Regions from separate parts of the Homo sapiens genome. Here regions 2 and 3 are each linked to region 1. Evidence: fine-mapped expression QTL. A gene starts in region 1. Each other region holds a variant in brackets. All regions are shown on one strand. Distances are between the middles of the regions. Region 1 holds the start of DGKG (diacylglycerol kinase gamma). Region 2 overlaps DGKG (diacylglycerol kinase gamma). Region 3 holds the start of LINC02020 (long intergenic non-protein coding RNA 2020).

Region 1 (10,097 bases):
GCGGTACTTAAAAGTTGTTCAGTTGCTAGTACTTAACAGAGTATCAGTGCCAGAAAGGGTTGTAGGGACCATTTCCAGCCTCCTTATTTTCTAAGAAAACTAAAATGAGGGAATCTCCTGCCTACATTCCCAGGGCTGGATCCCAAATCCCATTCATGGCAAAACTGTGACCAGGAGCTCCTGGTTCTCCTGTTTCCAACCCACAGTCTCACTCCACCACAGCCTTCACAGTCAAAACCAAGAGGAAAGTTAAGGTTCGGACTTGGCTAGTATCTGTTCCCATCCTGTCATTGCTTGATAACATGGAAAGATTCCATTAATTATGAGATCATAAAATATTAGGTGGAAGACAGCTTGGAGATAATCTGGTATAATCCTTTGTGTTCTGTACATGGGAAAAGTGAGGCCTAAGAAGGCGAGCAGAACCCCCCCGGCCCACCTTGCGGTTGGTGACCCTGAACTCAGCTGTGCTCCAACTGTCAAGTGCTGTTCGCTCAGCTTGTCAGAGACAGTGGGACTAAAAATTTCCAGACACAGGTACCTGACTCAGCCCTCGCTTTGCCTTGGCAGTGGAGATCAGGCATCAGCTGCTGGCTTGGATGATGTGTTCCCAGAGCAACATGGTGAGTGTGAGCTGCCAACATTGAAGTCTCAGGGAATGTAAAGTGTTGAACCAGTTAAACATCCAAAAATGCCCCGTCTCTCAGAAACAAGGGTGACTCATCACAGCGCTTGGGCTACAATTGGGAATGGCATTAGGGTGGCTGTGGCGGCTAAAAATCCATGCTTAGAAGCCCCCAGCTTCGTTTCCTCTGGCTTTTTGTTCGCAGGTCTTTTCTCTGGCTGAGAACCAACATACACATGCTCCACTGCCAAACCCAGCCCTCCTCCTCCATGAAGCCTGCCTTGACTCTTTCAGCCCAGAGGAGGTCTCCTTTCTCAAGCCCTGAGAATCTGCCCTGTGCAATTTGGCACTTGATTCCATACTGTCGTTCACTGTTTCTTAACCAGTGGAGCGTTTGTTTTATAACTGACATGGATTGCAAAATCTTTGAGGAGAGGCACTAAGCTTCCTCCTCTGTACCCTACAGTAAGTCTCAGGGTGTCACCACAGAGCAGAGACATGCTCAGACTCACAGATAGTCCTGACCTCAAGACTCTTTCTGCTTTACCTTATGTTTGCACATACAGCAAATGCCCAATAAATCCTCACTTGTTTCACCGTAGCTTCAGCCTTTTCAAATAAAGAGCTCAGTTGCAGGGCCTCTGTCAGCCCATGCAAATTAGAGAAAAGGCATCCCTCCCTCCAGGCAGACATAACCCTAACAGGTTGTGTGGCTGGGCAAGTGGGGCATGAGTTGGATTTCAGCCCCTTAGCTGGGTGCCCTCTGCAGCAAGCCACATAAGCCACCTGGGCTCTGGCTCTTCGTGAGAGCAGCAACAAGGACTCCCTCCCCACAGTGCTCCATTCTGATGGGGAAGGCCTACCTTGGGAAAGCTGGCATCAGATACTTCCCAGCTTGCTTCCCAGCTCATTTCCCATCAAAAACAAACAACAAAAAATCCACACCTGCCATAGCTCCTCACTGTGGAACCCAAGTCTATGCTCCCAGAAGAGCATTTGGAGACTCCCACAATACTGTCCCAGCCTTCTTTTCTTGTGCTGGGAAGACCCAGAACTCACCATGAATTGTCCTACGTCTCTGCTTTTGCTTTCTCCCAGCCTAGATTGCCCTTGTCCTGTTGATCTTTAAGTGAGATCTCTATTCCCCTTTAAAATCCGATCGCAAACCCTACCTCCTCCATGATGCCTCCATTAGCACTAATTGTTCTTGGTGCTTCTTCCCGCCCCATCCCTCTTTGCCTTCCACATTGCTTCAGCCTCTACTACCACCCTTTTCCTCCATGTTATTAGCATGTAACTCAGTCCACACAGCCTTCTCTGAACTCCTTCTGCAGCAACTCAGATGCATCATTTGGCTCCATCCTGATCCTAAAGGAATCCATTTGCAAGCAAACCGATGAACAATATTGACTTTACAAATGATTTCTTTCATAGGACCGGGGGCTTTCATAGCCCACCCCACAGCAAACTACTTACCAATCTTTGCAAGCATCTCCCCTGTCCAAATCCCTGGACAACTTGGCAACCCTGTTGCCTGTTCTCAGGCAAGTTGCTTGGCAACCCTGTCCTCAGAGCTCCTCCCCTCTCGTTACCCTTCCCCAATGTGCTCTCAACGAAGCTAAGGCTCCACACTCAGTCTCTGCATGTCTTCTTCATTTGTTCCATTCAATTTATTTCCTTCCTGTCCTAATAGGCAGAGCAACTCAATGTTGTCCTAACACCTATTTGCAAACATGTACCCCAAGTCCATTATGATGCTCAGCCAAACACAGGGTCTCCTTCAGTTTAGCCTTCTTTAGAAGGAGTCAAGAATAGACAGCCAGAATGTTTTTCTTGTGACATGTATGTGCATTTTCCTCCATTGAGCATGCAGTCAAAAAAAGCAAGGATTGTGTCTTCCACATCCATGCAACCTAGCAGAGTGAAAATATATACCAGAAACCTGTGCTCAGGGCTCCTCTCTTCCAGGGATGAGGACAGTTCTAAGCCCTTTCTGTCTCTCAGTTCTTCTTTCCTCCCAAGTAAGGCCCAGGACTGGAGTTACGGGGAAGCACCTGAAGACAGAGTAGGAGTTTAATAAATAGCTGTAAAATGAATGAGTCAGTGACTGAAGAGGAAAAAAAGAAAGGACAAGGAAGAACTTTGAAGGCACCCTCACCAAGATTATTTCAGCCTAGCTGAAGGAAACTTTGAGAAGCCACCCAGGGTGATAGAATGGATAAGACCCAGAGGATAAGAGGAGTCGCAAACACGGGGTTCTGGTATCAGCTCTGTCTTCATCACTGTGTGGAATCTTAAGGAGATCTCTCAGCTCTGTTTCTCATCTGTCTCACCAGCCTGCCTGCAGATAGCCTAGTATGGACACCACCCAACAGGGTCCTCAGGGCTGTTTGACATTCGTGTTTGAGGCTTCTTCCCCAAATGCACAGACACCCAGAGCCCCTCGGCGCCTCCACACTCTGCGGAAAGCTTTTCTTGGCTGCAGTGCTGGCCCGGGGACCTTCACTGCCCACTGGCAGAAAAGAATTCTCGGCTGTGGAAATGAGTAAACTCCACATATTTTAAAGATGACAGTCTAAACTCCTAATGACTCTAAATGTGGTGTGAAATGGACAGCAGTCATCTTGCTGTGTGACATGCCTGAAATAGTGTCACCACCACCATCACCCCCTCACGTGGACATGCACGTCATGGAAAGAGAAGCAACAAGTCATAGTGCCTTGGCTAATGTAGCTCCCCTATTCCCCCCGACCCCTCACCCCAGCGTCTTTTCTGTGCTCTTCTACATTTTAAAAAAAGAAGAGATCTATTTATTCTGCAGGAATACAGTCCAAGGTCACCTAAAAGCAAAGGAGAATGGGAATTAAACACACCCAGAGACCCGACCCATCCAACAGAGTCCAGCTCAGGCAGGCTGTGCCAGTCTCCACCAGGCTACGAGGGGAAAACCTTTTCGAGTTGAACTGCCACCAATCCACTGCCACCGAAGTCAAGGTTGTCAGAAATGACCCTCTGGACAGGGCTAGTGATTTGGATCCTAGAGATACTGAGTTCCTGGGAAACAAAGAGAACTTGTTGATTTTGTATTTTTATTTTTTCTTCGATTTGGTCGGGATATTACGGTAGCCTTGACCAGAGTTGAGAAAAGGAAACGCCCAGTCGGTATTTATTTGTCAAACAGTTGTCCTTTGCCTCCGGGGTCAGGGGCCCTCTGGTACCCACCACTGTTGCATCCTCTCCACACTCCTAAGCCTGTAACTCCTCCTCCCAAACCGAAGCCCTGTCAGTAAAAAGCGTCCTAATGATGCCCGCGCCCTAGTTGCACCAAAGGGGGTCAGGTTCCCATCGAGCGGATCCACATTCGTGTGTGCGCACGCGTGTGCATGTGTGGAAGCGCGTGTCTGTGTGTGCCGTGTGTGTACGCGCGCGCGCCGGTGTGTGTGGCGGGGGCGGGCTCTGCGCCCGGGGGCAGGGCTCCGCAGTGAGAGTGGCAGCTGGACTTGCCAGGCTGCGAGGGGCAGGGCACAGAGCCGCAGTGCCGTAGTAGCGGGCCACGGAGATAGACAGCTTTGGAGCTGCTGAACTCCGAGCACAGGGTGAAGACCCCGGCGCTACCAACCACAGCCTGGCAGCCTGGTCTCCGCGGCACCCACTGGGGCTGCATCCCCCTCCCCCGAGAGGGCTGCGCAGGCGGGAAGACGCCCAGAGGCCAGCTTCGGTCCCCCTTCTGTCTCTCGGTTCCTCTTTCCTCCCAAGTAAGGGAATAAACCGCGAAGAAGGAGCGCCCCGGGCCACCGCGCAACCAAGTGTTGCCTGGTGAGGTAAGACGGCGGCCGGCGCGGCGGAGGGGGTCCCCGGCTCAGGGAGCACCCGGTGCAGCAACTTGGTAAAGGAGGGCAAAGCGGGAGCCGGTCCCGCGGCCAGGGAAGGGGCTGCAGCCAAAGCCACGGCGCCCACCCCGACAGTTCCACCTGCCACAAAGCCCTGCAGGAAGGGATGCCCCGCTCGAGGGGTGCAGGCTTGGGGAACGCACAGGGTGGGGCTCGGCTCTCTCTGCGACTGAGAGGCCCCCTCAAGCCTCAAAGCTGTGCGGGTGGGAGGCGGCCTTGCTCCAGGCAGTTTGCTAAAGCAACTGGTCGGATTTCCTTCTTCTTCTGGACTTAACCTTGGCTCCTTGATATCCAGTTCGCGCTCCAGGCAGTCCGAGAAGCAGGAGATGCTTTTCCTAATGTCTGGCCGCCAAAGCCTCCGACCGTCCCGCGGGGTTCTAGGACTTTGGGGGCACTCCACAAAGCCCCTGCGCAGGGCGACTTAAAGGGAAGCTGAAGCGAACACGGACACCTCAGAGAATAAAGGAGGGAAGGGTCGAATCTGAGGTTGATCTGTGTAGTCTCAGAGTCACAAGATGTGTCCGTGTGTGTGCTTGTGTCCTGAGGAGTGCGTACCCGGAGTCACCTGTGGTGCTTTCGCAGACTCCACCGGTCCACCTCCCCTTGCCTAGTCTGAGATTTTCTTCGTTTGAACTAGTGGAATAGAATTAGGGGAGGGGGCTGTGGAGTTCTAAAAAGCCCTACAGGTGATTTGACGTGCTGCCCCCATCCCCACCATCACTGCAGTGGAAAGCTTGGGACTAGAGCTAGAACCACCTCCCAGATGGGAGGGATGAGCTGCGGAACTCAGGGTGGCGGTCGAGACCCCTCCCCCAGTCGCCCCCCGCGGCGGGAGCGTCTGCTGCAGCGCGAAGCGATCTGTGGCTGCGCCGCAGTGGTGCCCGGGAGCGCTGTGAACCCGTGGGCGCGCTCTCCCGCGCTGCGCCGCTGCCTCCTCGGACTTCATTAGCATACGATGACCTCTCTGTGGGGAGGAGGGCCTGGGAGGGCTGTTTGTCATTCCTTTATTTTGGGGGCTTGGCGACGACACTTTGGATCTGGAGGTGAACACCAGGGGTCATGATGAGAGACAGTGGTCAGGACACAGGACTGGAAACGACCCCTCTGGTCTGGATGGGGGAATCAACTTTGTTATTTTGGTGCTTGGGATTCTCTGTCTGTAAAATACAGCTGGCAGAGCCACTTGCTGGCACACAGGGCACCCTGGTTGTCAATGAAGGAAATTAGATCATAGAGGGCAAATGTCGAGGTTTGGTCATGAACCCAGGCACAGACACACACCCCTTTATATTTTATGTCCCTCTCACTCTCATTCCAGGCATGTGTCTAACATGGGAAGGTACTTAACTGTTTGTCATATTAAAAGACTACATTTGCTGGAGATTCCATTCCGAATATGAATTATACTCCTTAAATAAAACGGCTGCAACTAAGCCAACTTCCCGGTCGTACTCCTGATCTATGTCTTTTTTGCCAATCACCCTTAACGTTTACACCCAGCACTATAGGCATTACTACAGGTATTTTTCTGGGAGGGGCTTTAGGGTGGGAAGCTAGTAGATGAGTCTTTCCTACCTTAGAATTTTATGGAGTGGTTGGTTCAGATCAACCGAGACATGGGGAGAAAACGACAAACATCAGCGTGTCTTGAAATCTAGACTCTCAGAGATGGGAGTAACTACTAAGATCATCTGTTCCAGCTCCCCCAACTGCTCCAACTCCCCACACAACACCATCAACAGATGGTGAGGATCCCTCCAACCCGGACACTCCCAGAGGCCCAGGCTGTGCATGTGTGAGCCTCTGCGAGGAAAGAACCCAGAAGCCAGCAACTCTCCCCTCTCCTACTGATGGGAGTTGGTGGATGCTGGCCCCATCTCCTCCCCTGGAAGAGAAGGGGGAAAAGGGCGGGGAAGTACCTTTTCTTTGTGGTAAAACTTTAAAACTTTTAAAATGTATATCTTATTGTATTACATCATTATAATGTACTCTTTTAGTATAAAAGTAATTCATGTTCATTGCCTAAAAATTGGGAAGTTGAAAAGTATGCAAAGAACAAATCAATCACCCATGATCCTACCACTCCCATCCCACACTGTTAATATACTGGCATATTTCCTTTCCATCTGTTTTTATGCCTCGAAATTATACAATCCATAGAGAGCCAGCATTTATTGGGTGCCTAATAAGTATACTTTGCATGGTGTTAAATTTTATATTCATTATATCCTTTAATCCTCAGGAGTCCCTCTGAGGTGTTATTACTATCAATCCCATTTTTCTAGGGTTGCATTTTTCTAGGGTTCTAAGACTTCAGGTGACTTGCCCAAGTTACATAGCTAGTATGTGGCAGAATCAAGATTCAAACCCAGGCTGTCTGACTCAAAAGTATGGTTGCTGAGCCCCTGTAGCTATTGGTTCTCTGCTTTTTTCTGAATTAGTGTTGTAGCAAAAGACCTTCATGAACATTGTTTTCCTGGCTGCATATTATTACACTGTTAGTTATTTAAGTTGCTTCCTGTCTTTAGCAACTACAAATAACTCTGGGCAAAGTCTTTACTGCACACACTTCCCATTACTTCCTTTGGATAGATGCCTAGAAATAGATCACCAGGCCAAAGGGCATGAATGTTTTAAGGCTCACAGTATATATGAGAAGCCACTTTTCAAAAAGGGTACACTAATTTAGGATTCCATTCACCAGAAACAACTCGGCCATAGTTCAAGCAGATGACCTTTAGGAATCCAAATAGGCCAAGGCCTCACACGACCAAGCCACATCACACGAGCATTCTTCAGTCTCATGGAAGAAGGAATCACACATATCACCTTGCTTTATACACTCGGGAGGGATTATGGAAACCATACAACATAAAGCTATACCTATTTTTATGTGAGCAAGTATCAGCTGCAGAATTCTCTAGCTAAATGTCACATACTAACTTTGAACAAATCAAACCATCATGTAAAATATACAAATGTGTATAATGTCCCACTTCTCCATACAAGTCATTATAACAACATTCACTCTTGTGAACGTGCATCATGATCACAGCCAGGTTCAGCAAGCTTAACCCATCAGCAACAGCTTCCTCACATACTGGCCATATTCAAAGAGTTGTTTATTTGTACCAAGTATCAGAATTCCACACCCAACCATAGTGAGAGCTGATGTCACTTTATAAGTAACAGAGTTTGTCTGACTAAAAAAAAAAAAGAAATCAAGGCTAGTAACTATTAATAGTAATAAAACAATTTAAAAATAAAGTTATACCCATCATTTAAAAAAAATGTCCTCAGGTGGAAACAAAATGTGGCTGGCAGAAGAGAGATTGAATTAGGCAATACAAAACACACACACACACACACAAAGGGTTAGAAGAAAACAAACTGGCCCTAGCTATGAGTTGTTCCTAGAGCCTCGTTGATCTCCAAGCCACCTCTGCCACCAGCAGTGGGTTTAGTAGCCCTGGAATATAATCTGTTGTTGCTCCCACTCTGAGATCAATTTATGCAAGATTCAGCTCAGGTCCGGAAACATCCTTCAGGGAAGCCCACCCTAGAGATGTCCTGAATCCACAGCACCTGTGCGTAAGCTTACCTCGCTATGGCGAAGTCACTATTTGCATATCTCCCACTGAACTATGAGCCCCCTGAAGGCAGAGACCATGTCTAATCCTTTTCTGTATCCCCAGCACCTGAGATAGTGCCAATCCATAGTCAACAATTAAATGTGACGAATGAACGAATAAGAGAATTTTCCAGGTCCTGTACTGGATGCTTTACGTGCATTTCTCTTTCAGCATACCTTTATTCTGCTCAGGCTAGTCAGTCCCAGAAATATACCTGAAAGGTGTCTAGAGCTGTGCTGTCTGTTTTCACATGTGACTATTTCCTGTTTAACTTTAGTTCATTAAAATTAAATGAAATTTAAAATTCAGTTCCTCGGTCACACCAGTCACATTGCTAGTGCTTACATGCAGCATGTGATTTCTGGCTATCATATTGGAGAATGCACATTTAAAAGATTTCCATCATTGCAAAAAGTTTAACTGGACTGTGCTACAGTGTAAGCTTGGTGCAAGCAAAGTGTGTGTCTATGTCTGTCTCGTTTTCCACTGTATCCTCTGCACTAGCACAGTGCCTAGCCCCGAAGAGATGAGGGAGAGAAAGATAAAGGAGGGATGGTGGTAGTAAATGTTGTGGTAATATTAGCAATAGCACTTACTGGGCACCGACTCTGAGTCCCACATTGGGCTATGTTCTGTGCACGCATAGCTTCACCTGATATTCACATCACTACACTCCTGGTATTAACCCCATCTCACAGATAAGGAAACTGAGTCTCAGAAAGTTTCAGTAATTTGCCTATGGTCACAAAGCTGATAGGAGAGACTGAGATTGAAACTCAGGTCTATATGATTTCAAAGCCTTTTCTCTTTATTTATCTTCTCTTTTTTTCTTGGACCTTTTGCTTTACTGCCTCAATAACTGCTGTGTGTTGTGATGTGGATTAGGATTGCCACCATCTTGGCTTCCTGGGAAATCACAGAAAGGGGACTTTTGAAAGCTTTCCAAGAGAAACAATGGGTATAATTTATGACTCTGAATCACATATCAAGAGTGCAAAATTTTGCTCAGGGTCTTAAGAGAACCTGTCCCTGGATGGGTGAAGGAGGGAGAAAGGAACCCATCCATAGTGTGGCCTGACCTGATTTCAGCGTGTCTTGAAATCTAGACTCTCAGAGATGGGAGTAACTACTAAGATCATCTGTTCCAGCTCCCCCAACTGCTCCAACTCCCCACACAACACCATCAACAGATGGCGAGGATCCCTCCAACCTGGACACTCCCAGAGGCCCAGGCTGTGCATGCATGAGCCTCTGCGAGGAAAGAACCCAGAAGCCAGCAACTCTCCCCTCTCCTACTGATGGGAGTTGGTGGATGCTGGCCCCATCTCCTCCCCTGGAAGAGAAGGGGGAAAAGGGCGGGGAACCAAAAACCTACAAGAGCAGACCAGTCAACCACCATAGTCTGTGCTTCTCCTCAGGGAGTCCTGAACCAGCTCTTAAGATCTCGCAACCTATTAATGGGGTAACTTGGCTCTCAAATCCCTGGCCAACGCCCTTTTCACTGCTCCACCCTACCTCATGGGCCATTTGCTCCAGTGCCCTCACTATTATTATCATCACTCTTGTCCTAGTTTTCTCTAATTTCTTTATTCTTAAAGAATAAAGTGCAAAATTTCAAGGGAGTCCTAATCAGCATGGAGAAGACTGAAATTACCACCTCCTCATTCTATTTCCTATTTCTATTAAAACTCTTTAAGGTCTAATTAAGAATCTATACCATTGACACCTGTTGAGCTTAATATCAACTGAAGTAACCCAATTCTCTTTTAAACTTGCTCTTGAACTGCATTGCCCACCTGCTCGCCTTCACCCGATACTTGCCCACACCCCCTCACAGCCACTCTAGAGACTGTGCATTGTTTCTCATTTTATCTTGTTCAGTTCAGTCTGCCTCGCCAACTTGCCCAGATATTTCTGGCTGTGATTCTAGCATCCAGTGTATTTACCGGC
Region 2 (10,097 bases), 130 kb after region 1:
ACACAAGTATCTTTTTTTTTTTTTTTTCATGGAGTTTCGCTCTGTTGCTCAGCCTGGAGTGCAGTGGCGCGATCTTGGCTCACTGCAACTTCCACCTCCTGGGTTCAAACAATTCTTCCGTCTCAGCCTCCCAAGTAGCTGGGATTACAGGCACCCACTACCACACCCAGCTGATTTTTGTATTTTTAGTAGAGACAGTGTTTCACCATGTTGGCCAGGCTGGTCTCGAACTCCTGACCTCAAGTGAGCCACCCACCTCAGGCTCCCAAAGTGCTGGGATTACAGACTTGAGCCACTGCACCCGGCCTCACACAAGTATCCTTATACGTACTCATGCACATGTGCCATATGCTTGTGAAAGCCACGGGGCTCTGTTCATTCATTCATCCATTCATTCAGCAGATCTTTTGAAAACGTAATGCACACCAGACACTGTTCTACAGGCATTTTGGACAGACGCATGTAGGGGACTCACAGCCTGGTGCTGGAAACAGGCTGGAAAGCAGATGTGCAGAATGGTTTGTGTTAAGTGATGTAACTGGAGGTGACCTATGGGAGCAAAAACCAAGGACACGAAACGTGGCATGGAGGGTTTTCCAATGACAGAGACGCCTGAACCAAGACACGGAAAAAGAGGAGGGCAACACAGGGAGAAGGAAGCAAATGTACGAAAAGATACGAAGGAGTGAGAGGGTGCAGTATACTTGTGGAAGAGCAAGATGTTCAGTGTGATCAGTTGTATGGTCTCGGCAGAGGAAAGAAACCAAACATCTGTAATTCCCAGAAAGCAAGGAAGCAGAGGGAGGGAGAAATTTCTCCATATGCCAAAAATCAATAGGCAGGCCAACATATGACATAAATAGAGCAATCATCCATCACCCACATGATTAAGTACAATTAGAAAGACACATCCGTCAGAAAAAAAAAAAAAAAAAGATTGTAGCGTGCATTTTAATGCAAAGTATGAACAAATTCACTGTGATCTGTAGAACTGTTTTTCCTTCTCCCTTCCGAGATCCTATAAACAATACTTCTCTCTGAGGGTAGGTTCTCAGCTCACTCTTCACCTGACTGAGGTCAAGGTAGCATGGATGACATGGTGACAGGCCCACGGATTTGCACGTAAACCTGCGTGCTCGCCTAACAAACGAAGACAGAAGGGCTGAGGTAGCACCTATTTCACAAGGTCACCGAACGCTTCCTATGAAGAACTTTGCATACATACTGCTTCTACCCTGCCTATTCGCCCATGTCTAAAATACCCAGGAGTGCCCAATTTGTCCACTGAGAGGCAGGCAAGCAGCCATTTTCTTCAGGCTTCCTTATTTAGCATTGGAGATGGTTTTAAATAGGCAGGTGGTTGTTGCCATGGTTACCCCATTACACCAGCGGCTAAACTTAGGAAAGGCCGCAAGGCATAGGAAGAAAGCTTGATACCCAGGATTTGGAAATGTAAACGGCATTATCAAACAAGGCCTATTTTACTCAGCTGAACTGAGGTTCTCCAAAGAGTAGTTACTGCTTGGCCGGAAGCCTTTACCATTACTGCCCAGGTTTGGACTCTCAGGGATAATCTTGAGGTTAAATCTTGGGAGTTGTCATTGCTGTGTTTTGTTCTGTTTTGTTTTGTTTTCAGCAAGGGAGAGTGACTAGTCAGGTCCGGAACACTTACCAGGAAACCGGAATCATTCACGTTGCTGATTCCCTTTTCTTGGCTATTCTAACAAGAATTCTTAACCTGGGATCCAAGGGCTTCAGGGGTTTTGAGAACACCTTGAAATTGTACTAAGGTACTGAATGTATTTTTCTGCAGAGAATGTCCATAACTATCAGAAGATTCTTAAAGGAACCTATACTCCCAAAATGTTTAAAAGTCACAGGTCTGAGGCCTCTTTGAATCCTAAGAGGCATCAAATTATGACTCAAATGTTGGGGTTTCAGGAAATTCTTCCTCCATGGCCTCTCTAGATGGGTTGTTGCCAGGGAAGATAGTGGGTTCCAGAAAACCAAGTTATGTTCTCTGATGGAATAGTTTCATTAATGGAGCAAGAACCAGAACCGAGGAGGCAGGAATACGAGCCATGTATGATGGGCAAAAAAGAAAAGGCCTTTAACGGCAGAGATGGGGTTATTTTTGGCCCTGTCTACCTCCTAGTTATCAATAGGCTAATCATTAATTGCTAATTGAGGAATGTTAGGGAGATTATCGTCTCACTGTTGGCATAAAGAACAAAAGAGAAATTTGATTCAACTGAGATTCTAAAGTGTTTGAAAGTGATCTGGAATAAAGGGCACATAAGATGTGGCCCCTGCCTTCAAGGAAATCGTCGTCTAGCAAAAGAAAAGGAAAAATAGTGCTCAAGTATTCTTTACAAAATTATTTTAACATACAAGGTGGTTACATTTCATAGGTGATATAGTATACAGGAAGTCGTATAATATGTAAGAACTTATTAATGGTCATATCCCAAACATCATTTGCAAATGGATTGTTTTCTTTTTGGGGGATGTTTTTGGTCTTTTTTTTTTTTTTTTTTTTTTTAGAAAGAGTCATTCTGTCACCTGGCCTGGAGTGCAGTGGTGTGATCTTGGCTCACTGCAACCTTTGCCTCTCAGGTTCAGGTGATTTTCCTACACAGCCTCCTGAGTAGGTGGGATTAAAGGCACACACCACCACGCCTGGCTAACTTTTCTTCCTATTTTTAGTAGAGATGGGGTTTCACCATGTCAGCAAGCCTGGTCTTGAACTCCTGACCTCAAGTGATTTGCCTGCCATGGCCTCCGAAAGTGCTGGGATTACAGGTGTGAGCCACCACTCCTGGCCAAATTGGTTGTTTTAGGTGTAGCAATAGTGTTAAAGGGGAACCTGACTAAGAACTGTTTTCATTTTTTTAGCTCCTCCTAGATGCCAAGTGGTGAACTAGGGTCTTTAAATACATTAAATTATTTAAATCACAAAACAACCTTTCAAGATAAATATTAGCATTCCCATTTACAGATAAAGGAACTGACACTGGAAGAAACCAAGTCAACTAACAAAAGTCATGTATTTTTTAGGCAGTGGGGCTAATTTAATTTCTGACCTAGCTCTTCACTCCAGAGTCCAAGCTCTGTTTGCCGCAACTGCTGTCTCACATAGATTTCATTGAGCAAGCACTGATGTATACCAGACACTCTGATAAGTACTTTATACATCATCCCACTCATTGCTCACAATAACATGCAAGGGTAAGTGCTACTGTCCCCATTTTAGAAATGAAGGAACTGAGGCTAAGGAGGATGGAGCTGTCATTGGCATCATCTGCCTTTATGGATTGTCTCTGTGGGAAAATGCCTGCTGAGTTCCAAAGGGGAGGAGAACAGGTACACCATCCAGTCATACCTTGTATGGTGTGAGCATTCTCCCTGTTTCCACGTCCACAGCAAGGAGCAGGACTGGCTGTATGATCTGTGTGACCCAGTGCAAAATTAAAAATGTGAGGCCCCTTCCTCAAAAATGGGACAGCAAAGCATTAAACTAAGCACTGAGCCCTCTTAAGTGTGGGGCCCTGGAGTCCACATCTCACACCTATGAGGTGGCCCTGGCAAGGACAGAGGAATTAATAAAAAGAAGACACTTTTGCCAGTAGTCACAGAGTAGGGTGTTTGCAATAAAGTCAAAAGAATGGAGGAAAGAGGGTTTCAACTTAGGGAGAAGGAGAGGGACTCTCAGTCCCACAAACAGGCAGCAATCAGTACTAGCAGAGGAGCCAAGAATCCCGTCAAAGTCTTCCAGATAGCCAAAAACCAGCCCACCATGAAGTTTCCAGATTAAGTCTCCATGAAGGGTTTTGCATATGAAATCTATACATAAAAGCCACCTAATTCTAATGTCACTGTCAGTGAGTGTCTAGAAAGAGAAGTCTAACTGTGGAATGTTTTCATTGTTGGTTAGAAACTCAGAGTACTTGCGGAATGTGTTATTCTAAACCTGTTGAGTGTATCCACTTGACCGCGTCTCTCAGCAGTTGAGGCTGAAGCAAGTTATTTCCTGTTAGGCCCTTCAGAGGGACCGAAGCAGTGCTTCATTCCTACTAGAAGCTGACCACCTTTCTCAAAAGCCCTTGACTAATTAACAGGTTCTGAAATATTAGCTTTCTTGGAGCAGGTCCCATGGAGTCACTGATGAGGGGCTCCCCAGAAGCCCTAATGTAGCTTGAGTTTTTAAGAGGTTGGAAATATACCTTGTAAATAACTAAGCACTTAGTAACTATTTATAGAAGAAGGCAGCAGGGTATAGAGTAAGTTGGCATCAAAACTTGGCTTTGCCGCTTATTAGCTATGTGACCTTGGGCAAGTTAATCTTCTTAATCCTTTGCTGCCTCTTTTGAAAATCTTGCAATGTTGCTATAAGTATTTAGTGACATAATACCTAAGTTCATAGTACACAGGAGGTTCGCAATAAACATTTGTTGTTGAATATCATTGAATAACAAGCATTGCCTTAAATTGACGATAAAGTATTGACAATAAAAGGGTTGTTTTTAATGGAGTGACAAATTGGATTCAGTTATCACAGAATCAATGCTCCATTGACATGGCCTTTAACCTGAAAAGTTGGAGGACAACTAAAAGTTGGAGGAGACCCCAGCAGTGATGCATTGAATCTGCCCAAATCCTTCTCCTGGGGGTGGGAATATGGCACCACTTTGGTTGGTTTGGATTCTACAGGACAGAAGCTCTAGAGGAAATCCCCTTCACTGGCTCCATGGAAGTCCAAGAGGCAGAGGTTGGGGATCTGGACACTAGAGATTC[G/A]AAGTCCAGTGCCAAATCCAGGCTAGCAGGATCAAGGGAGGGGGTCATAGACCCCAGGTGAAATGGCCTCAGGAGGAACAGGGCAGGAGTGAGTAAAGGAGAGTGGCAGGACAGATTCCATGTGCTCCCTGGGTGCTTCTGGCTTACTAGCAGGGGTCATGGACTGCATGGCAGGTAGGCAAGTGGCCCTGTGGTCAGATGCTGGGGATGTGACTAACCCTCCCTCACGGATACTTCTTTCCCCTCACCCACCACGTACCTCTCCCCAACCCTGACCTCAGATAAAGACAGAGATGTTCTGTGGGGAACAAAATAGAAACCGACAAAGCTCAAGTCACACAGTTCTGAAAATGAAAGGAAGGGCTTCCTCTCTTGAATACCTGCAGTATGCTCTGCCGTCACAAGCATAAAATATATCATGATTTACATAAGATTTTCTTCTTATATCTAAAAATGAAACCCTTCTAAGTTATTCTTTCCTGGCGCCCTGTGAGGTAGCCCACTATTACAACCCAGATGTGTGACTTTCTCAAGGCATAAAGGTTCAACAGCAGCAAATATAGCAAAGTTAAAAATCCTTGCCATCAAAGTCTTCATTCTGTGCCCTGAATTAGGCTTTGCCTCTCTTCATCTAATATTTGGCACCTCAAAAGAGACCTGCTGTAGGTAGCCAGAGGTCCAGACTGTCTGCACCTGCTTCCCTCAATATAGCAAACTATTTTTCTTAAATATCTGGGATTCAGAAAAGCCCCAAATGAAATTAATTGTGGGATTTTCTGTGTTTTTTCTTATTCCTGTAGGTATTTATAAAGAAATACAAACCTTATGTTTTGTGCTCAAGAACCTTTGATTTTCAAGTCAATTCTGACAGAGCAACTGACTTAATTACTTGAATGTTTATATACTAAGCCACAAAAATGTTTTGTCCCCCACCCTCCCCACCTCTCTTTGGGAGAGATGCAGAGAGTAAAATGAATGAAATATGGGTTCATGTTTTTTTCATCAGGTGCTCAACGTTACACAAATGCAGAAGTCCAGGGTTTTTTGTTGTTGTTGTTGGATTGTTTATAGTTAACTCTTGATTATTCGCAGAAAAAAGGGAGCAACCACGTGGATCATCTACAGTGGTGGATGATCAAAGATTTTGGGAGTCTGTTATTAATATTTGTATGCAGTTCTCCCTGCCCTAACATTCGTAGTATTTTAAATAATATGATGAAATCACACTGACTCTTAACAATCCTTTCATTTTCCTCCTGGGTCCCTAGTCCGCGTGGGAACAGACAGCACAACCTCTCAGACTGTTACACAGCAGCAGCCTGTGGCGTCTCAAGCCTCCCTACAAGGTTACCCACTGGCCAGAACCGTTTCTTTCTGTAGCTTAATGGGCTTTTTCTTGTAGCCCCTGCTAGGCTAGAACAGGAAAGGTCTTATTCATGTCAACAAAGAGTAGAATCGGTTTGTGATCATATCAGAAGGAACTTGAAAGCACGCTATGTTTTCAAGACTATAGGCCAGATAATCCCAAAGTTATCAGTATTTACTGACTGATTGATTTCTAGAAATATTTCCATCAAAGAACTCAAGATGTAATGTGTAATCAGTTCACAAGAGTTGAGGTTAGCACGATAACCTTATGGAAGAAAATCAAAGCACACAAATTCAAAGTAAGGTAGGAACTGGCTGGATCCTAACGTGAGTGTTGACAGTCTGGATGCTTTCCAGAAGGGAGAGGTTGAGAAGGTGCTGGAACTTTAGATGTCTTCGAGCAAAAGGCTGAATCTGGAATTGTTTCACCCAAAGAAGAGAAGCCTTAGAGAGAAGTGATCATTGGCCTCAAATATTTAAAAGGCTTTTCGTATAAAGCAGGAATTGTGTTATTTTGCACAATTAATCAATGAAAAGGTGACTGGAATGCAAGACTGGGTTAAGCCCCAAATAGGACATTAATTCTACTGGTCAGAGCCATCCTCAAGTGCAGTGAGCTATTGGAGAAGGTGATGAGTTTTCCTATTTTACGTTCAAGCCCATGCTGGCAATGATTTTGGAAGCAAGTGCCCAGTAGGAAAGGTTCCATTATCATACAACCTGGATTCAAATCCTGGAGTTCTCATTAACCACTATGTGTGACCTTGACCAAGTTACTCTCCCTGAACCTCAGTCGGCTCACCTGTAAAACTGAGGTATAATATTATGTGAGTTTCCTGTTGTTGCTGTCATGAACTGCCACAAACTTAGTGGCTTAAAACAACACTACTGGCTGGGCGTGGTGGCTCACGCCTGTAATCCCAGCACTTTGGGAGGCCGAGGCAGGCGGATCACGAGGTCAGGAGATCGAGACTATCCTGGCTGACACGGTGAAACCCCATCTCTACTAAAAATACGAAAACAAAATTAGCCAGGCGTGGTGGTGGGCGCCTGTAGTCCCAGCTACTCGGGAGGCTGAGGCAGGAGAATGGCGTGAACCCGGGAGGCGGAGCTTGCAGTGAGCCGAGATCGCGCCACTGCAGTCCAGCCTGGGCGACAGAGCGAGACTCCGTCTCAAAAAACAACAACAACAACGACAAAAACGGCACTGCTGTGTTACAGTTCTGGAGGTTGGAAGTCTGAAATAGGTGTCACCGGGCTAAAATCAAGGTGCCATCAGGGCTACATTCCTTTCTGGAGAGTCTGGGGGAAAAGCTGTTTCCTTGCCTTTTCCAGGTGTCACCACTCTTTGGCTCCTGGCCCCCTCCCATTGTTGAAGCCAGCAGTGGCCAGTCGAGTCCTTCTCATATGGCGTCCCCCTGACATTCTTTCTCCTGCCTCCCTCTTCCACTTATGAGAACGCTGATTGCACTGAACCCACCCAGAAAATTCAGGATCCTCTCCCCATCTCAAGGTCAATTGACTGGCAACTTAAACTCTATCTGCAACCTTAATTCCCCCTTCGCCCCTTTGCCACGTAACCTAACATACTCACAGGCTCTGGGGATCAGAACGTGGACATCTTCAGGGCATTGTTCCACCTACTAGCCTCATAGGCTTATTTCGAGGATCTATTGGAACAATGCATTTAAAGTGTCTATTACAGAGTCGGGCACATCAGTGGTAGCTATTATGATTGTTATTAATATTCTTATTACAAAGACAGATCCTACATCAGATAATAACCATGTTAGATGATTCAGAAGCCATTAAGACTCTGAATTTTGGTGATTCTCTAATATAGGCAGATAAACATCTATTTAATATTAAATAGGGTGTAAGTCATCAATGTAGAAATATATGGAATTATTTTTCTCATCATTTATCTTGTTTAAACGTTTTTCAATAAAATATCAATACATTTATCATGTAATTAAATAATACATCAGACAGTGTTATTATATAGCACATTGCAATATCATTATAAATAATTTGGAAAGTTCAGAAAAGTTAAAGTAAGAGAAAAAAAACCAATCACTCATATTCCCATCATGGAGAAACACAATATTGCCATTTTGGTGCATTACAGCAGTTAACTTGATAGATATACCTTAAAATATTTGTGATAATGTGTTTTTATAAAGCTATACATATCATTTTTAAACTAATTTTTCTTTATATAAGTCATTCAGGCTCATTGTAAAAAAAATCATATTTTGCATCCCCTCCTCCAAGAAATAAACACTCAGCGCTATAACATATTTTCTTTCAGCATTTTAATTGCACAATTTTATTGACTTGAGATCATGCTCTAGACACTAGTTTAAAACATTAACATAGTAGCATTTATAGGTTATGAAGGGAAGGTGATAGAAAGGAGCTGAATGGAGTGAGTTCATCTGCTGTAGGAGTTTTATTGGCCTTTTCCAATTAAAAAGTCCCAACGCTTTTGTTCAGTCATTGAGTGTTTTAAAGATACCATTACCCAAGTCCCTTCACAATTGAAATAACTATTTCAGATGTTATGCAGCTCTACTATCGTGCAGGGTAAATGAAAAATATTTTATCCTTTCAACACGATTCTGGGTCCTGTCTATAGTTTTGCTGTATCTCAAAAGAACCAGTTTGTGTTTTATTTGACCACCAGAGATAGCAAGAGTTGCTGTCTGAACTATGCAGTAGTATAGTTTTTGTTTTTATTTTTGTTTTTTTGAGACGGAGTCTCTCTCTCTGTCACCCAGGCTGGAGTCAGTGGCTCTATCTCGGCTCACTGACATGGCCGCCTTCAGGGTTCAAGCAATTCTCCTGCCTCAGCCTCCTGATTAGCTGGGATTACAGGTGCGCGCCACCATGCCCAGCTAATTTTTTTGTATTTTTAGTAGAGAGCGGGTTTCACCATGTTGGCCAGGCTGGTCTCAAACTCCTGACCTCAGTTGATCCAACCACCTAGGCTTCCCAAAGTGCTGGGATTACAGGCGTGAGTGACCACACCTGGCCTAGTATAGTTTTTAAAGCATGAATAACCATGAGCTCATTTATTAAAGTGTTTAGAAAGGTGGTTTTCCCAATGTAATCAGTCCTGCTCCAACCCATACCAACAATAGTAGCCATCATTTATTGAGAGCTTTCAAGAATCTCATGTACATTATTTTTAAGTGGCACAACTCACCAAGTGTAAGTATTATTGATCCATCTTACAGATGAGAAAAGTGAGGCTCATAGAGATGATGCAACTTGCTCAAGACCACACTAGTTACTAGAGAAGCTACGATTCACACCTAGGCCTGTCCACTCCACATCTCCTCTTAGCCTGCTACAATTCCCTGCCTCTCCATGTGCCCAGTTTTGTGCCCCATGACCAAAGATGCACCCAAAAAAAGACTAGAAAAGAGCCATAGATATGATTAAAGGGCCCATGAGAAAACCACAAGTTATCCAAAATCACTTTTCCTGGAGAGAAACAGAGAACGTACTGGGAATGGGCCTCAAGTGTGTGAAGGATTCACAACAGGAAATAGTGACTGCACCTCCTTACTCTTCATCTCAGTTCAGGAAAGAATGAGAGAGGGAAAAAATGTGCTCTAAAAGTAAAGAATTCTCTTTTGGATGGGAGCAGGAATCTTCTGGCCTGGAGACATATTAAAGACTGAAATGAGTTATTGAGAGTAGTTTTGGAATCTCTTGCAAAGGCTTCCAAAAACAGAGAGTTGCATTCATCCAGGATGATAAACACACCACCTTCTCTGAGCCCAGCAGTGTACTCATTGCACCCACCAGGTCCCCACCCAGATGGGAGCTTTCTGCCTCCCACTCCACAACTGACCAAGCTGCACAGTTTAATTGCACAATTTTATTTACTTGTGAGACCGCTTGCCTCCTGTGCTCCTCACTTCCCA
Region 3 (10,097 bases), 75 kb before region 1:
GTGAGAATTATTGGCCCTCTAGAATGAGTGCACATAGGACGCTGATGATGTAGAGAAAGAGAAGGTTGCTAATGGCAAGAATGAGAACGGCATGGTGGTTGGTAGGCATTTTGCGGGCCAGAATGCTCCCTGACAGTGTCCCAAGGGTTTTTCTGTTTCACTGATAGCAAATATTAGACAGATGGGAAGGGCCCCTGCAGATTCAAAGGTACAGCTCACAGTCAGCAATGCTCTTGGGAGGAGTTGGAGACAGGCAAGCAAAGGCAGCCACTGTTACCAGGAGAAGCCAAGTGGGGTGGTATTCCAGGGGCTTGAGAGCAGCGACCAATGTGTGGTGTTGTCCCTCTTATAGGTGGATGACTCAGATCCAGCAGGCCGATCCTTCACCAAGAGCCAGGGCAAGAATTCAAGCAGAACCTGCATATCATATGACTATATTTAACAGTTCTAAATCACAAAGAGTTGAACAACATGCTTTCTATTCTCCTTCCTTGACAAATATATCTTCATAATGATTAGATAGAAAAATACGAGTAAAGTTCAAAGTTTCTAATTGACTGAAAGCTGGCAAAACGTCAACGATGACTGAACATAATTATTATCGCATATACTGGGAATTCTGTTGATGGGCCTGTGGTGTTTGGATGAATAATCAATGAAGATATTAATAATTCATAAATTATATGCTTTTTAAATAACATTTACTTTTTCCTTTATCCTGGCAAAATCAGTAACTATGTCATTGTACTCAAGATTTTCATGTAATTTGTGTTCTAGGGAAAGTAATGATCTAAAGCTGCATTTGTAATATGATATACCATGTAACATATGATATGATATATAAATATGATATGATATAGGATACAATATAATAGCCATAAAATAAATGTGGCTGTTTTAATTTAAATTATAGAAAATTTAAAATTCAGTTCCCCAGTTGTACCAGTCACCTTTCAGACACTCAGTAGTCACAAGTGGCTAGTGGTTACCATATTGGATAGTGTGGATATAGAGCATTTTCATCATTGCTTAAAGTTCTACAGTCATGCACCAAATAATGATGCTTCAGCCAATGGCAGACCACATATACAATGGTGGTCCCATCGGATTCTAATAGAGCTGAAAAATTCCTATTACCTAGTGATAGTGTAGCCATGGTAACATCATAGTGTAATGCATTACTTACATGTATGTGGTTATGCTGGGGTAAACAAATTGACTGCTCTGCCAGTTGTATAATAAAAGTATAGCACATCCAGTTATGTATAGTACATAATACTTGATAATAAATGACTATGGTACTGGTTTATGTATCTACTATACTTTTTGCTGTTATTTTAGTGTACTCTTTCTACTTATGAAAAAAAAGCTAGCTGGAAAACATCCTCAGACAGGTCCTCCAGGAAGGATTCGAGAAGAAGGCATTGTTATCAGAGGAAATGAAGCTCCACGCTTGTTATTGCCCCTGAAGACCTTCCAGTGGGACAGGAGGGGAGGCGGAAGACAGTGATCCTGATGATTCTGACCCCGTGTAGGCCTAGGCTAATGTGTGTATTTGTGTCTTCGTTTTTAACAAAAAAGTTTAAGAAGTAAAAATTAAAAATTTCAAAAATAGAGAAAAGCTTATAAAGTAAGGATATAAAGAAATAAAATATTTTTGTTCCGCTCTACAATGTTTGTGTTTTAAGCCAAGTGTCATTACTAAATAGTCAAAACGTTTTAAAAAAATTTAAAAGTTTATAAAGTAAAAGAGAGTAAGGTAAGGTTAATTTGTTACTGAAGAAATAAAAGTATTTTAAAATAAATTTAGTGTCTTCTAATGGACAGTATTTATAAAGCATAGAGTAGAATACAGTAATGTCCTAGACCTTCACACTCACTCACCACTCACTCACTGACTCACCCAGAGATATTTCCAAGCCTGCAAGTTCAATTCATGGTAAGTGCCTTCTACAGGTGGACTTAAAAACAATCTTTTATGTTGTATATCTACTGCAGCATTTCTGCATTTAGGTATGTTTAGATACACAAATATCATTGCGTTACATTGCCTACATTGTTCAGTACAATAACATGCTGTGCAGGTTGGCAGCCTAGGAGCAATACGCTATACCATATTGCCCAGGTGTGCAGTAGACTACACTCAAGGTTTATGTAAGTACACTCCATAATGTTTGTGCAATGATGGAATTGCCTCACAATGCATTTCTTAGGACATATCTGTCACAAAGCGACATATAACTGTATTAAGTTGCACTGATCTAAAGTATTAAAAATTAAGATATAATTGCATTGAAATTATACCAAATTGAGTATACTTAATAAAAATATAATTGCGGTAAATATGAAAGATAAAAAACTAAAATTATTTTTATATATATTTTCCATAAGTTTTTCTAAAATTTTCAAAATGATTGTTTAGTGATACAATCTAAATGATAGTGAATGAATACCAGTGTTTTAATAAAATATTTAAATAAAGCTGAAAAACCTTTTATTTAATTTTTAAGTTTTAATTAAATATTATTAATTTTTATACAATTAAAACTATTTGCAATTTTCATGTTCAATGTCCATCTAGTTGCCAATGTAAAGAATCATTATCAAACTTCCATAAATACACACACACATTTAAAAGTGATGTGAAATGTTTAATATTGCAAAATGTTCCCCAGGCATCTTGTGCAATTGTTTTGAATAGTGCACTAATTTGTGAGAATCTTTGAAACCATGAATTGGCACACAAAAAGAAGAAAGAAAATGGATATTTAGCACTACTGGAAATCGATACTTCATTATACAAAATGCTGAAACAGAGAGATTTCACAAGTTAATCAACGTGTCTTTTCTCTTATATGGGCACTTCTGTCATTAAAAATGTTCCCCACATATCTTTTGATAAGACTCAGTGGTAGCAGCAGCACAGCCCACACACCTTCCCATCATCTGAACACGGTGTCCTTTTGTCCCATCATCTGAACACTGTGTCCTTTGTTTCAAGAACATAGGGCAAGGGTTGTGAAGACACGCTTCCCTACGTGAGTTGTGCGGTGGATGTTAAGGTTATGGGTTACACTGCGCCAGTAACAGAGGCAGCCATGTGTTTCTTTGTAAATATGTTTTGTTGTGTGTTTGTGTTTACGTGGAGCCCACTAAAGCACAGGCCCAGGGTGGAAGCCCTTCTTGCGAGGACCAATGGCATCTCTGTGTCAGGGAATTGGGATAGAAGACTGGGTTTTTCAGGCCGGGCGCAGTGGCTCACGCCTGTAATACCAGCACTTTGGGAGGCCGAGGTGGGTGGATCACGAAGTCAGGAGATCGAGACCATCCTGGCTAACATGGCGAAACCCCATCTCTACTAAAAATACAAAAAAAAAAAATAGCCAGACATGGTGGCGGATGCCTATAGTCCCAGCTACTCGGGAGGCTGAGGCAGGAGAATGGGGTGAATCCCAGAGGCGGAGCTTGCAGTGGGCTGAGACTGTGCCACTGCACTCCAGCCTGGGTGACAAAGCGAGACTCCATCTCAAAAAAAAAAAAAAAAAGAAAACTGGGTTTTTCATCTCACAGTATGCTACTGACAACTTTCAGTACTTTTTCTTCTGGTTCCTTACACTCAGGCCCTGCTTCTCCAGAAAACTTGGTGCCTAAGCAATGGACACAATGGTTGGAGTATCTGAAATTTCAAAATTTATTTATTTAATTATTTAAAAAACATTTGTATAGGGCTTACTAACAACTATATACTTTAAATGTGTTAATTCACTTAATTCCCATAATAACTTTGTGAAGTATGCACTATTGTTATTTAATTTCATATGTGAGTAAACTGAGGCACAGAAAGATTAAATAACATGCCCAAGATCAATCAGCTTGCTTGTGGAGAAGCCAAGCTTCCAGTCCAGGCAGTCCTGCTCTACAGATCATCATCTTAGCCTCACTATCAATTTGCTCCTCTTTTAACAAAGATTATTTTTTTCCCATTTAAAAATATATTTTTAAATTTTGATAGTTAATATATTCCTATAGTTTAAACAAAAAGCAAAATGATATAAAAATATGCATTAAGTGCTGAGACACATGCAAAGGAATAAAATTGGACACCCCCACCTCATACCGTATACAAAACTCCAAATGGATTAACAAACTAAATGTAAGAGTTCAAACTGTAAAGTTCTTAGAAGAAAACATGGGCCAATCTTCATCACCTTGGATTTGGCAATGGATTATTAGATATGCCATCCAAAGTGTGAGCAACAACAATAAAAAGCATAGATAAATTGAACTTTGGGAGGCCAAGGTGGGAGGATCACTTGAAGTCAGGAGTTCAAGACCAGCCTGGCCAACGTGGTGAAACCCCATCTCTACTAAAAATAAAAAAACTAGCCGGGTGTGGTGGCATCCACCTGTAATCCCAGCTACTCAGGAGGCTAAGGTGAGAGAATTGCTTGAACCCAGGAGGCGGAGGTTGCAGTGAGCCGAGATGGAACCACTGCACTCCAGCCTGGGCTACAGAGTGAGACTCCATCTCAAAAAAAAAAATTAAACTTTTATATATCACAAACATTATGGAGAAAGT[G/A]AAAAGATATTGGTGAAAGAAGAAAATTTCAATTAAACAGGAGGAATAAATTCAAGAGATTTATTCCACATCCTGGTGACTACAGTTAATAACAATATATTATATATCTGAAAATTGCTAAGAGCGTACATTTTAAGTGTTTTCATCACAAAAATGATAAGTAGGGAAGGTAATGCATATGTTAAACAGCTGGATTTAGCCATTTCACAATGTATACATATGTTAAAAGCATGTTGTACACCATAAATATATACTATTTTTAAAATTTGTTGATTAAAAAAATAAAGTCATGCTGAAAGTTAAAAATGAAAGTGAAAAGTCAACCTATAGAATGGGAGAAAATACTTGCAAATTATATATCTGATAAGGGCCTAATATCTAGAATATACAAGGAATGCATAAAAGTCAACAGCAAAAAGATTTTTAAAAATCCGGTTTTGAAAATGGGAAAATGACTTAAATTGACATTTCCTCCAAGAAGATATACCAATGGCCAACATGCACATGAAAAGATGCTCAACATCATTAATCCATAGGGAAATGCAAATCAAAACCACAATGAGATACCACTTAACACCCACTAGGCCTCTGCCTCTCCCTCTCCCCCTCCACCTCCCTCTCCCTCTTTGCACCGTCTCCCTCTGATGCCCAGCAGAGGCTGGACTGGACTGCTGCCATCTCCACTCACTGCAACCTCCCTGCCTGATTCTCCTGCCTCAGCCTGCCGAGTGCCTGGGATTGCAGGCGCGCGCCGCCACGCCTGACTGGTTTTCATATTTTTTTGGTGGAGACGGGGTTTCGCCGTGTTGGCCGGGCTGGTCTCCAGCTCCTGACCTCGAGTGATCTGCTCGCCTCGGCCTCCCGAGGTGCTGGAATGGCAGACGGAGTCTTGCTCACTCAGTGCTCAATGCTGCCCAGGCTGGAGTGCAGTGGCGTGATCTCAGCTCGCTACAACCTCCACCTCCCAGCCGCCTGCCTTGGCCTCCCAAAGTGCCGAGATTGCAGACTCTGCCCGGCTGCCGGCCCGTCTAGGAAGTGAGGAGCGTCTCTGCCTGGCCGCCCATCGTCTGGGATGTGAGGAGCCCCTCTGCCTGGCGGCCCAGTCTGGGAAGTGAGGAGCGCCTCTTCCCGGCCGCCATCCCGTCTAGGAAGTGAGGATCGTCTCTGCCTGGCTGCCCATCGTCTGGGATGTGGGGAGCGCCTCTGCCCCGCTGCCCCTTCTGAGATGTGAGGAGCGCCTCTGCCCGGCCGCAACCCCGTCTGGGAACTGAGGAGTGTCTCTGCCCCGCCGCCACCCCGTCTGGGAGGTGAGGAGCATCTCTGACCGGCTGCCCCGTCTGAGAAGTGAGGAGCCCCTCCGCCCGGCAACCGCCCCATCCGGGAGGTAGGGGGCAGCCCCCGCCCGGCGGCCGCCCCGTCTGGGAGGTGGGGGGCGCCTCTGCCCCACCGCCACCCCGTCTGTGATGTGTACCCAACAGCTCATTGAGAACGGGCCATGATGACGATGGCGGTTTTGTCGAATAGAAAAGGGGGAAATGTGGGGAAAAGAAGGAGAGATCAGATTGTTACTGTGTCTGTGTAGAAAGAAGTAGACATAGGAGACTCCATTTTGTTCTGTACTAAGAAAAATTCTTCTGCCTTGGGATGCTGTTAATCTATAACCTTACCCCCAACCCCGTGCTCTCTGAAACATGTGCTGTGTCCACTAAGGGTTAAATGGATTAAGAGTGGTGCAAGATGTGCTTTGTTAAACAGATGCTTGAAGGCACCACTCCCTAATCTCAAGTACCCAGGGACACAAACACTGCGGAAGGCGGCAGGGTCCTCTGCCTAGGAAAACCAGAGACGTTTGTTCACATGTTTATCTGCTGACCTTCCCTCCACTATTGTCCTATGACCCTGCCAAATCCCCCTCTCCGAGAAACACCCAAGAATGATCAATAAATACTAAAAAAATTTTAAAAAAAAGAAAGAAAAAGAAAAGAATAAAGGACTTATTATCCTAAAAAAAAAAACAAAAAACAACAACAAAAAAACACCCACTAGGATAGTCACAATAAAAAAATTTCTAATTTAAAAAATGTGTTGGCAAGAATATGGAGAAATTGGAACCCTCACACATTACTGATGGGAATATCAAATGGTGCATCCACTGTGGAAGACAATTTGGTGATTCCTCAAAAAGCTAAACAGAATTGCCATGCAATCCAGCAATTCCACTCCTAGATGTGTACCCCAAAGAGCTGCAAACAGGTGCTGAAACACATACTTACACATGAGTGTTCATAGCAGCACCCTTCTTGATAGCCAAAAGGTGGACACAATGCAAATGTTCATCAAGTGATGAATGAACAAGCAAAACGTGGTATCTAAGTACCATGGATTATTACTCAGCCATAGAAAGGAATGAAGTACTGATACATGCTACACTATATGTGAAATTTTAAAATATCATGCTAAGTGAAAAAAGCCAGACACAAAAGGTCACATATTGTGTGATTCCAGTGATACGAAATATCCAGAATGGGTAAAGCCACAGAGTCAGAAAGCAGATTAGGAGTTGCCAGGAGCTAGCGGGAGGAGAGAATAGGGAGTGGCTGCGTAGCGAGTATGAGATTTTCTTCTGGGATAATGAAAATGTTTACAACTAGCTAGTGGTAGTGGTTGTATAGCATTGTGAATGTAATAAATGCCACTGAATGAAACACTTTAAAACGGTTAATTGTATGTTACATGAATTTCACCTTTTGTTTTTAAAGGATGCATTGAGATATCATGCCCCCACTCCTGTCCCTCATCTTTAACCATTTCCACATTTCCTTTATCCTTCCAGGGCTGAAGGATGGAAACAGTATTCTGCCTTCAAAGAGAAAGACAGGCAAAACCCCAGCAGGCGTGTGTTGCCCCAAGTTTCAGAGCCCACAGAATATATAGAAGAGCATTCAAGATAGGACTGTACTAAACATTTAATGTAGAAATAATGCCAATTCTACATTAATTCTTCTACAATATTGTGGAGAGGAAAATAGTCCCCCACTCATTCTCATTAAAGCCAGCATCGCCCTGAAACCAAAACTAGACAAAGACACTGTAAGAAAACTATAGACCAATATCCTTCATGAAAATTGATGCAACAATTTGAAACAAAATTTTACCAAATAACCAACAATATATAAAAAGGACAATACATTATGACCAAGTGGGATTTACGCAAGTTGAATAGTACTGGGTTGGTTGAACACTCAAGAATCAACAATGTAATTTGCCATAGTAACAGATTACAACAACAGCGACGTGTGATCATCTCAATGGATGCAGAAAAGCCATTTGACAAAATCTAAACACATTCCTGATTTTAAAAAAAAAACCTCTTAGAAAACTAGGAATAGAAAGGAACTCCCTCCACCTGATAGAGGCTGTGTACAAAATACCTAAAACTAACATCGTATTAAATGCTTTTTCCCTAGTACCAGGAACAAAACAAGGATGTTGGCTCTCCCCATCCCTATTCAACAACATATGGGAGGTTTTATCTGGGGCCATCAGGCAAGACAGAGAAATAAGGTTATCCATATTGGAAAAGGAGAAATAAAACTGTTCTTATTTGCAGGCGACATGATCATTCATGTAGAAAGAATGCAATCTACAAACAGCTGCTATAACTAATACATGAGTTTAACAGTGTTGCACAATACACAATTAATATACACAAATCTACTTTATTTCTATATTATAGAAATTAAAATTTAAAAATACTGTTTACAATGTCTCAAAATATTTGAAGCACTTAGGAGTAGATTTGACGAAAGATGTGCAGGATCCATACCCAGAAAGCCACAAAACACTATTGGGAGACATTAAAGAAAACCTGCATAAATGAGAGAACCCCCACAGGAGGAGGGGAGTCTGGTTCTTTGGTAGAGTGTCCCAGCCTCAATGGGGCTTGCTCAGATGGTCAGATCTGAACTACAGTCCGTCAGTTATAAATCAGAAGAAGTATGCAGACAAAGGCTTGGGCAGTGAGCTTAGGCTGACATGTTCTTCCCTTCTGTGTGGCTTATGGGGGATGCCTATGAGCTGATTGCAGAGGTAGATGTATAATGGAAAGAACATGGGCTTTAGGGCCAAGCATACCTAAGCTGAGTCCCAATGCTGCCACTTCAGCTGCTTGACCCTTGGGTAAGTTGCTGTCTTCTGAGCCTCCATTTCTTTATCAGTAAAGGAGTGACTACAGCAATACTGGCAGATTCTGGCCAGAGGCTCACTGATCTCTTCCTGGCATCAAGGAAAGCCACATTTCCCAGTCTCTCTTACAGTTAGTTTGGGGCCATATGATTAATTCCGGCTAATGTAATCAAGTGATGTGACAAATACCAATTTCAGACTTGGTCATAAAACCCCAGTTTGACTAATCATGTTCTTTCTCTCCCCGAGGCCATGGCTGGAAGTGAAAGCTTCTGAGATGGCAGAGCCACGTGATAGAAGGAGCCTGGATCTCTGGGCTACTGCCTGGAAGACAGCTGCTCGGGAGAGCTGCTTGACTCAGTGGACTGTGACATGAACTAGAATTAAGTTTTGTGAAGTCACTGAGACTTTGGATTTGTTACAGCAGTTAGCATAACTATTAACTTACCTTGCAGGGCTGGTGTTGGAATTCTTTACAGCGTATCCATCCCATGGGTCAGTTTCCTCTGCCTTTGAATAGGGTCTAGCACATAGTAGGTGCTCACATAATTGTGATTACAGTTTTCAGGAGAGCTCCTCCTTCTCTCCAACCTGCTGCCTCCTTCTGTTTAAGATACTGCCAAGTACCAGCATCTCAGATACTTTGACTGCTTAAACCTGTTTGATATTACTTAGGGACAGAGAGTTCAAAATGAGGGCACAAAAAATGTGAGAGCCAAGATAGAGACAATTTTTACAAAGCTTCAAATGAACAGATAAATGTACAACAATAAAATTTAGGGACTTCCTGTAGTCACTTGGAAATTTCTGCTCACAGCCTGCCACCTTTTTCCCCACTACAACAGCTTTTGCTGCTCGGTGTGGTGCCTCATGCCTATAACCGCAGCTATTCAGGAGACTGTGGTGGGAGGATCATTTGAGGCCAGGAGTCTGAGACAAGCCTGGGCAACATAGTGAGATCCTGCCTCAAAAAACATAAATTAATAAGTTATATGGCTACTTTATTTTAAAATAAAATATGTATATTATCTTCCTCAAGTTGTTTAAGCTAATTGACTGCTCTTCACTTACCATTTGAACCACCTATTTTACTCTACAGCATGTTTTCACTTTGACCAAAAATAAAATCATTAGGGGAATAGACATATTAAGGTCACAGAAGTCTCAACAATAAAATAGGTACTGCTGAGAGCAGAGATAAGGAGAGAAGTAGAAACCAGTTTCTTATTCCTCAGCATATCTCTAGAAACTGCCATCTCTGTATTACTAGCAGCTTATCCAAATCCCCAGTGTCAATAAACAGGATGAGGATTCCGTCTTTGGATGGCTGGCA

What was found. PIP is the estimated chance that this variant, and not a neighbour inherited with it, causes the effect.
Region 2: its variant is the best candidate, but not a certain one, in a credible set for the expression of DGKG in monocytes (Quach 2016, PIP 0.61).
Region 3: its variant is the best candidate, but not a certain one, in a credible set for the expression of DGKG in tibial artery (GTEx, PIP 0.88).

What each region holds. Positions count from the first base shown.
Region 1 is chr3:186,356,295-186,366,391 of GRCh38, reverse strand. DGKG (diacylglycerol kinase gamma) reads left to right here and starts at 4,158. Exons shown (of 25, transcript NM_001346.3): 1 at 4,158-4,446. RefSeq lists a silencer at 3,999-4,088 and an enhancer at 4,873-5,390.
Region 2 is chr3:186,230,738-186,240,834 of GRCh38, reverse strand. All of the region lies in intron 20 of DGKG (diacylglycerol kinase gamma), which reads left to right. Among named protein-coding and RNA genes, the nearest start is that of DGKG, 130 kb to the left of the region's middle. The variant G/A (reference allele first, on the strand shown) is at 4,795.
Region 3 is chr3:186,431,302-186,441,398 of GRCh38, reverse strand. It overlaps LINC02020 (long intergenic non-protein coding RNA 2020), which reads right to left and starts at 1,054. Exons shown (of 4, transcript NR_151710.1): 1 at 951-1,054; 2 at 278-417. The variant G/A (reference allele first, on the strand shown) is at 4,580.